2 separate regions of the Homo sapiens genome follow, and region 1 is reported to be linked to region 2. The links are microRNA targets in miRTarBase. Many come from high-throughput screens and were not tested one by one. Region 2 holds a microRNA gene; the other region holds the end of a gene's coding sequence.
The links. The annotated mature microRNA hsa-miR-208b-3p reads AUAAGACGAACAAAAGGUUUGU and lies in region 2 at 2,601-2,622, shown strand. An mRNA with a match to its seed (bases 2 to 7 or 8) in the 3' UTR can be bound and repressed. Matches are read on the target gene's strand: a 7mer-m8 pairs with bases 2 to 8, a 7mer-A1 pairs with bases 2 to 7 and ends in A, and an 8mer does both.

Region 1 (4,328 bases), not on the chromosome of region 2:
GGGAATATGTAGTTAGTCTTGCAGTCTAACACTTGGGATGGCTAAAACAATAAAGTTAAAAAGGAAGATACTTGTATTTCCACAGGTCCTAGCTCACAAACTGGGATCCACTAAAAAAAAAAGACATAAAATGTTGAATTGGCACTAAATGATCAGTGAGTAGGGTGATTGGGAAACAACTCTAGTACTAACAAACCAAATACAGCAGGCCCTGCTGCCCCATTCCATGGAAGTCAGCACCTTTCCTGACCCCAGAGAGCCCAGGCAAGCAAACTGATGTAGTGTGAGGGCTACAACTCAAAAAGTAAATGTTTCCACACCATTTCTCTCCATCTCTACTTCTCAATTTTCCATACACTCATTCCATCTTTTCTCTTACTCTGCCCTTTGCCATCCCCATTCTTACTCCTTTCTCTTTCCTCACCCCTTTTCTCACTTCCTCTCTTTTCCTTCTTTTTTGATTTAGTTACATCATTCTTTTCTTCTCTACTTTCTCTTCCTGAAAAACTCTTCCTTACATAAACAAATTCATACTGGAGATATATGTCAGAAAACATTCAGCCTGAGTAAACTGAACGCTCTGTACAGAAAACAACGAACAAAACAGAACTTCAACAGTAACACTGGCGTGGCATAATATAAGCCACGCAAAATGCTTCCAAATCCATTATCTCTTCTGAGTTTCATCTTGTGAGGTTTGAAGGGTACACTGATTGTACTTAAAAACCTAAGGCACAGAGAAGGGTAAATAACATGCCTGAGTTACTAAAAAGAGAATCCAGATCTAGTTCAAAATCTGGTCTTCTTTTCACTATACCAATAACATCTGACTGGAGGCAAGATGAGAGAGCAATGAGTAAGCACTAATGTTATTTCAGGGCCTTAAAACCCTTATATATTATGAACTACTCTTCATTAGAAAAAAGTATGCATTTTCTTAAAGCATAAATCACAATATATATTTTTAAAGGTTTCCCAAGTTCTTTTCTACTTCATACAAATGAAGTTTGACTGCATTTTAAAGGCATCCCACTTTGGTAATACTGTAGCCCAGAGATAGTTCTGAGGTCAGAATACATAGACTCAAATAATAAATCATGTAGTTTATATAAACTGCATAGATACACTATGTTTTATGAAAGACCATTTATATGAAGATGGAATACGTTCTCTAAGTTGTCCATCTATAATTTAACCTCTCATCAACTCCAAGAACTGCATTTCTTTAGAATTCAAAAGAATTACCTTGTCTAAAGATAAATTCAGAAAATTCATTTAAAAATTATTATACATATTTTGTGATACCTTTAATTTTAGGTAGAAACAGTACCCAAAAGACAGTTTTCACTATAATTCAATTTATGGTAAAATGATCAATTAGGTCAGGTCTAAATAAACCAGATGAAGAACCTTCCAACTGATCCACAATGTAGTGTGTGTGACAGTGTAAATAAGCCACAACATGAGTGAGACCACAGCATACAGTCCAGTTGGATTAAACTGTGACCACGCTCTACACAAGTCCCAATCAATTAGAGCCCATGGGGCTGAGATTCTCCGTTCACTGAGGAAATTTTATCTTATCAAACTTACTAATATAAATTCATATCCTGTCATTAACCCCAAATGCTTCCTCTAATATTTCAAAATCACATTTATAATCCACCAAACGTGCCAAGAATTGTGGTATCCTAACTTGAACTTTCAAGTTGGCAAAATAATTTCCAGTGGTTCTCAAAGTAGCTAACATCAAAGTCATCTGAGGTGATTGTTAAAAACGAAATCATCATGTGACTTATATTCTGTTGATTCTAACAAACCAACTAGAAGATGATTTTTGAGATAATCAGGGAAATTTGCTTAAGGACTGGCTATGAGATGAAGCCGAAGGACTGCTGCTGCCTCTGTTAGGTGTGATATCGTGGTATCTACCCAAAGTGTTCACAGCAGTGAAATAACACAATGTATGGGATTTTAAGATACTTAAGCAAACAAAAAAATGACAAATGAAGCAAACATGGTAAGATAGTGATAAGTGTCAGATCTGGATGTTGAGTACCAATGCACTATTCTAGTTTTGTGTAATTTTTAAATTTCTTCATTAAAAATTGTTTTACAGACTCCCTCCTAGACACAGCATGCCAGAGTCTCCAAAGGCCTAGCTCAGGAATCTATTCTTAAGCTCCCAACAAGAATCTTACATAGTCAGGCAGGCAATGATCATTATTTGAGGACCATTAGAAATGATCTAATACATACCCTCCAAACTTCACATTTTTAGTATTCTCATTTTCTACTCAGTAAGCTCAATTTCACAGTTTCTTATATTCACCATGGCATTCTGCCAAGGAACTACAACTCGTGTTCTCTAAACCCATCTGTTCTAAGAATGCTGGACTGGTTATCAACTTCTAATGCACCCTGCTTAAACTTTCCTCTCTCAATTTGTCCCTGACTGAACTGCAGACGACAGAACAACTGTACTAACCATCTCTTTCTGCATATTCCATGTCTCCACAGAGGTCACTGTGTCTTCACAAAGCTAACTGCCACAATTTTCACAGGTTGTATTTTTCCTTCATGATTTTCCATTTTCTACTTGAGCATTAAAATATCAGGGAGAAAAAGAAGATAACCATATAGATAATCATATTGTTGGTAAAATAAGATATGTGCCCCAGCATAGTATATGCTAAGTATTCAGAATCTATAGTTATATTAGCTAACAGGTCAAGAATGCCAAAGAAGTAATTTCTCAAGATTTAAAAAAATTAACTGTCTTAGGTGATATTCAAAAATGCACATCAACCCAATTAAAACCACATTTTCTACAGCTGGATGTAACAATCTTATTCCAAATCATCCACTTAAGTTGTTTAACTTACTTAAAGTAAGGCTCTAGACATTTGCTTCTTCAAAAGTATCTTGCAAGGCCGTTATGAGGTAGAAGACAAGTTTAAATGGACCATATTTTTCTACTCCATTGTAACTAAAATTACTACTCACAGGAAGTATATAGCTTATGCATTTTGGTCCATCACACTTTCCACCATCATGAGTATACTCTTAAGGTTCTCACTTTACCATCAGCATAATATATTTTGCTTCCAGAATGCCCAGTAAAGCTGACGTTTTTCATTTAAAGTGATTAAAAAAAAATTCCCCAAATATCTATTTAACAATCTTAGATCTGAGTTTTGGCAAGACAGTTTAATGCATACAAAATGAAACACTACATTTCTCACTCTCTCTCACACACAAACACGCACACACAGATTAAAATCCCAAAGTTTTCACTATTTTTCCTCTACCTTACACAGCTCAATTTTTAACATGCAGCTTACTTGTAATCTAAAAATAATTTTAAACATGATTGTCATAAAAATATTTTAAAACAGAGATGAAATGTATAAAGGCACACATAGATTGTCAATGGTTACATCAGTTACATCACATTTCTTCAGAAACAACAGACCTGTTTCTGCTCCTGTAAACAAACTTTTTTCTCACACTTTTAAAGTGAGGTTAGTGCTGACATAAAATTATTGCTCTACTCACAGTCTTGAGTGTTGGCACTGTTTGAGGTACATTTTCTCCATCTACACACCCCTACCACTCTTGAGAGTATGAGTCAACAGAAGTCTGCAGGTTAAACCCATTCAATAGTATTTTCATCAATACTGGAATGATAGCAAGTAACATTACAAAACATCAGAGATAAAAAATGTTCAATGTTGAGGCCCAAGATTTTAACTTATTCTTCATTACCTGAAAATACTGCTTACTTAACTTCTTTAGGAAAAAAAAAATTATTCTGGAGATGAGTAATTCCTTCCTGAATACTTCATCCAAGACGATTCCTTCACACTTATCTTCTGATTCTTTGTTTTCATCCATTTGATTAAGCAGTCACCAAGAATCACTTTTCCTTTGGTGATCTGGCATAACGATCTCTTACACTTTTTGCTAGTTGTTTGATAAATATTTTGTAAATTTTTCCACAGTATGTATGCACTGTTTTTTGTAGTTCCAGTTCTAAAGGTTTTAATAAGGAACGGATGTTGTCATCTTCAAAAGAACACTAGAGAAAGAAAATTTTAAAAAATAAAAAATTTAAAAGGCAAAGGTACATATGTAAGTTCAATTATTTTCCAAACTTCTTCAATCAGTTTAATATGAACGATCTCCATTTAACGTCTCACAGAAATTAGATGTTTAACAAATATTTTCAATAAATTAAACAGAACTATTATCTCCCATTAAAGAAAGACAGCCATGGTAAATCTCCGGGGGAATCCTGGAGAACATGCGCAAGGGCAGAGAAGACT
Region 2 (4,387 bases):
GCATGACTTTCCTCCTTACTCTAGAGCAGAAGCTGTGTTAGGTCTTTAGTTGTCTGGTCAGACAAATACGGCTCTCTCATTTTCAACTTTTGTTATTTTTTTATGACTAAACTGCTTAAAATATCCCCAGAACACAGGTCTCTTTGTCCATCTTTAAGAGCAAGTTTCAACCACTTTCCTTCCAATAAAGAGCATGTAGACTGTCAGGCCCTCGCCTAAAGGAAGGCTCTTCAAACTATCTTCCCCAAATCCTTTAATTCCCACCTCTCCACTGGAAGAGCTAAACTGACTTGCTGTTCCAGAGAAGCCGAGAGCCTTTTAGAGCCGGGGGGATTCCAGTGGAGGGGTCCAGGCGGTGGGTCTGAGCCCTTTGTGTCTGACCAGGCACGCATCGAGGAGCTGGAGGAGGAGCTGGAGGCCGAGCGCACCGCCAGGGCTAAGGTGGAGAAGCTGCGCTCAGACCTGTCTCGGGAGCTGGAGGAGATCAGCGAGCGGCTGGAAGAGGCCGGCGGGGCCACGTCCGTGCAGATCGAGATGAACAAGAAGCGCGAGGCCGAGTTCCAGAAGATGCGGCGGGACCTGGAGGAGGCCACGCTGCAGCACGAGGCCACTGCCGCGGCCCTGCGCAAGAAGCACGCCGACAGCGTGGCCGAGCTGGGCGAGCAGATCGACAACCTGCAGCGGGTGAAGCAGAAGCTGGAGAAGGAGAAGAGCGAGTTCAAGCTGGAGCTGGATGACGTCACCTCCAACATGGAGCAGATCATCAAGGCCAAGGCAGGCTCTGCTCGGCCTCCCCTCCTCCAACTTCCTCCTCCCACCTCCCCTTTCTGTCCATGTAGTGTCTCTTCCTTCATGGTTCATTTTCCCACTTCCCTTCCTCTGCCTGGTTCTCAGATCCCCTCCTTCTTTTCACACCTTCCCTCTTCTTTTCTCCTTCAGTTGCACCTCTTACACCCCTTCATTCCCCCCGCCCCCAACATCCATCATATAACTCTCCTTCCCTTCTCAGGCTAACCTGGAGAAGATGTGCCGGACCTTGGAAGACCAGATGAATGAGCACCGGAGCAAGGCGGAGGAGACCCAGCGTTCTGTCAACGACCTCACCAGCCAGCGGGCCAAGTTGCAAACCGAGAATGGTGAGCCTAGAGCAGGGGCTCCATGGTTCCCACCACAGTCTCCCCAACCTCCTGAGCCACTCCAGCCTCGGGCACAAGCCAATACACGCACACACAGACACAGAGTCTCTCCAGAAAATGGGGCCTGAGGGCTAGAGGAGGAGGTGGGGATAGAGAGGAGTGCTGATCTAGAATGGTGCTTCCCCAGGTGAGCTGTCCCGGCAGCTGGATGAGAAGGAGGCACTGATCTCCCAGCTGACCCGAGGCAAGCTCACCTACACCCAGCAGCTGGAGGACCTCAAGAGGCAGCTGGAGGAGGAGGTTAAGGTAAGGGCTAGACTCGGGCCACCTGGCCCAAGCAAGGAGCACACTGACTAGCCTTGCATCAAATCACTTCCCTTCCCAGCAATAAGGCTGGCTGTGGACCAACAGTTCTCCAAGAATTCTAAAAAGAAATCACAGCCCAAACCCTGCCACATGCCATCTACTCCCCAGGCTGAGGCCCTCTGCTTCTGCTGCATCCCTGGACGGGAGGCAGGGTGTGAGAAGGAGGAGAGAAAATGAACTAGGGAGGCACGAGATGGCCTTGCCCGGGCACGGCTAGGGGATGTAGGGACTGCACAAATGGGTCCTGGGATTTGCAGGGCCACCTGAAAACTGGAGAAAGAAATTCAACTGGAGCCTATTCCTAGCACTTTGCTGGACTCATGAAAAAGGAGAAAGAACATGATTTTTAAAAAACTCCAGGGTTCATACTAACCTGCCTCTTATAGCTCAGTGATCTTAGGTTAGGGAAGTCCCCTAACCTTTCTGAGCCTGTTTCCCTCTCCCCAGCCAGGTAAAATGGCGGTGATGATGACCATGTCTGGTGTGGGGAGGAGCTCAGGGCCAATGGCCATGAAGCTTTTCTTAAATAGTTCACTGCTGTATTGGCATTCTTTGTTATCAGCAAACAGTAAACCATGACAGGTCCACTGGGGGTTTGGACATAGATGAGGCCAAGGGATGATGTTGAGATTGGGGTGAGGAGAAGGGCAAGGGTGGGGTTGCTTTATGGAGAAAGCTGAACCCACCTCCTGGTGCCCACCCCTCCCCAGGCGAAGAACGCCCTGGCCCACGCACTGCAGTCGGCCCGGCATGACTGCGACCTGCTGCGGGAGCAGTACGAGGAGGAGACGGAGGCCAAGGCCGAGCTGCAGCGCGTCCTTTCCAAGGCCAACTCGGAGGTGGCCCAGTGGAGGACCAAGTATGAGACGGACGCCATTCAGCGGACTGAGGAGCTCGAGGAGGCCAAGTGAGTTCTGAGCAGCCTGACTTCTGGCTGAGGCCCCTTTGCAGGCAGGACTCAGCCCAGCCCCAGCCTCAGCAGATCCCACACAGGCGATGCTTAGCTAGTGTTTGACAACACAGGAGGACTCTGCCCCGGCCCCACCTCCTTCTCCTCTCAGGGAAGCTTTTTGCTCGAATTATGTTTCTGATCCGAATATAAGACGAACAAAAGGTTTGTCTGAGGGCAGAGTGCTTCCGTCTGGGGCAGGGCACTGTGGCAGGGAAAGGCAGTGGGGAGGGCTGCAGAAGCCCATACCTCCTCAATGTCCATAGCGCAGAGGCTGGGCCAGGGTCAGAGGGTGCCTGGGTCTCCACGCCCTGCTGGGATCCTCTGCCTGATGTTCTCGGCCCCTGGGACCTGTCCTCAGGCTTCTCCAGCTACACTTCTGAGGTTTCAAGGATTGTCTTTGAGAAGGTTCATGTTGTTTCCTCTTGTCCCCATCCACACCCTCCATCCTCCCCACCCTCTGCCACCCTCCCCTGGGCAGGAAGAAGCTGGCCCAGCGGCTGCAGGAAGCTGAGGAGGCCGTGGAGGCTGTTAATGCCAAGTGCTCCTCGCTGGAGAAGACCAAGCACCGGCTACAGAATGAGATCGAGGACTTGATGGTGGACGTAGAGCGCTCCAATGCTGCTGCTGCAGCCCTGGACAAGAAGCAGAGGAACTTCGACAAGGTGGGCCCTGGGTGGGGGCCGCAGCCAGCATGCAGGGCAAGGGGGCATGAGGGGTTCAGTGAGAGGCCAGAGCCATCCTCCTTGGAGGTGGGGGAGGAGGGCTGAGCCCAGGCAGGTCCTGAGACAGACCCTGGACATGGGGCTGAGGCTGGGGGGCTGAAGAGTGAGCCTTGTCCCCGGGCAGATCCTGGCCGAGTGGAAGCAGAAGTATGAGGAGTCGCAGTCGGAGCTGGAGTCCTCGCAGAAGGAGGCTCGCTCCCTCAGCACAGAGCTCTTCAAACTCAAGAACGCCTATGAGGAGTCCCTGGAACATCTGGAGACCTTCAAGCGGGAGAACAAAAACCTGCAGGGTGTGCTGGGGGCCCAAGAGGCTGGGGAGGGGCTGCACTGGCAGTGTTCCCATATGGTGCCACCCAAGGGCTCCAAGAGGCGTCTGGGCAAAGAGGCGTGTCCCTCCAACTCCACTGGACCTCAGCAGCCCTCAACCGAGTTACCGTGTTCCCCACACAGAGGAGATCTCCGACTTGACTGAGCAGTTGGGTTCCAGCGGAAAGACTATCCATGAGCTGGAGAAGGTCCGAAAGCAGCTGGAGGCCGAGAAGATGGAGCTGCAGTCAGCCCTGGAGGAGGCCGAGGTGTGTGTGTGTGCAGGGCACGGGGTGCAGGGAGCTGAGCTCCAGGCTTTTGGTCCCTGTTCTCATCCCCCGCTTTGTCCGTTTTGTTCACTGTCCCATCCCCAGAGCCTAGGACAGAGCCTGGCACATAGTAGGCATTCAGTGAAGATTTGTGGAGTGAATGAATGACCAGTCACTGAACTCTCTTCACATAAACATTTTACCCATTGCATCTTAGCTGAGCTTCCCATTTCCACATACCTCCCGGTTCCCACCTCTGCCTCCCTCTGTTTTCTTTTATACTCTATACCTGATTGCCTCTGTTTCCTTGGCAACACTTTTCTCTTCATTTTCCTCCTTGTCTTCATAGCTGGCTCTCCCCTGTGAGGGCCTGAATCACTTTCTCTTAGGCTTATTTTTATTTTCTCTTAGATTCTCTTTTCCTCCACCTTCTGCTTCTTTGAACCACTTACACCACTCTTGAAGTCACTTCGTATCCATGATTAGTGAGCAGGCCCCCACCCTGCCCTGTGCCCTGACTGTCTGCCTGCATCCCCTCCCCCAACCCCTTCCCAGGCCTCCCTGGAGCACGAGGAGGGCAAGATCCTCCGGGCCCAGCTGGAGTTCAACCAGATCAAGGCAGAGATCGAGCGGAAG

Region 1: the mRNA of GXYLT1 is a reported target of hsa-miR-208b-3p. The part of its 3' UTR that is shown has no 7-base or 8-base seed match.

Annotation. Positions count from the first base shown.
Region 1 is chr12:42,083,867-42,088,194 of GRCh38, forward strand. It overlaps GXYLT1 (glucoside xylosyltransferase 1), which reads right to left. Exons shown (of 8, transcript NM_173601.2): 8 at 1-4,081. The coding sequence ends at 3,920. It also overlaps the pseudogene LOC101929308. Among named protein-coding and RNA genes, the nearest start is that of GXYLT1, 59 kb to the right of the region's middle.
Region 2 is chr14:23,416,232-23,420,618 of GRCh38, reverse strand. MIR208B (microRNA 208b) reads left to right here and starts at 2,556; the gene lies at 2,556-2,632. It overlaps MYH7 (myosin heavy chain 7), which reads left to right. Exons shown (of 40, transcript NM_000257.4): 27 at 385-774; 28 at 1,010-1,136; 29 at 1,324-1,442; 30 at 2,213-2,409; 31 at 2,933-3,116; 32 at 3,301-3,466; 33 at 3,627-3,751; 34 at 4,307-4,387. MHRT (myosin heavy chain associated RNA transcript) reads right to left here. Exons shown (of 6, transcript NR_126491.1): 3 at 4,322-4,387; 4 at 3,611-3,703; 5 at 3,246-3,407; 6 at 3,024-3,086. RefSeq lists an enhancer at 4,174-4,387.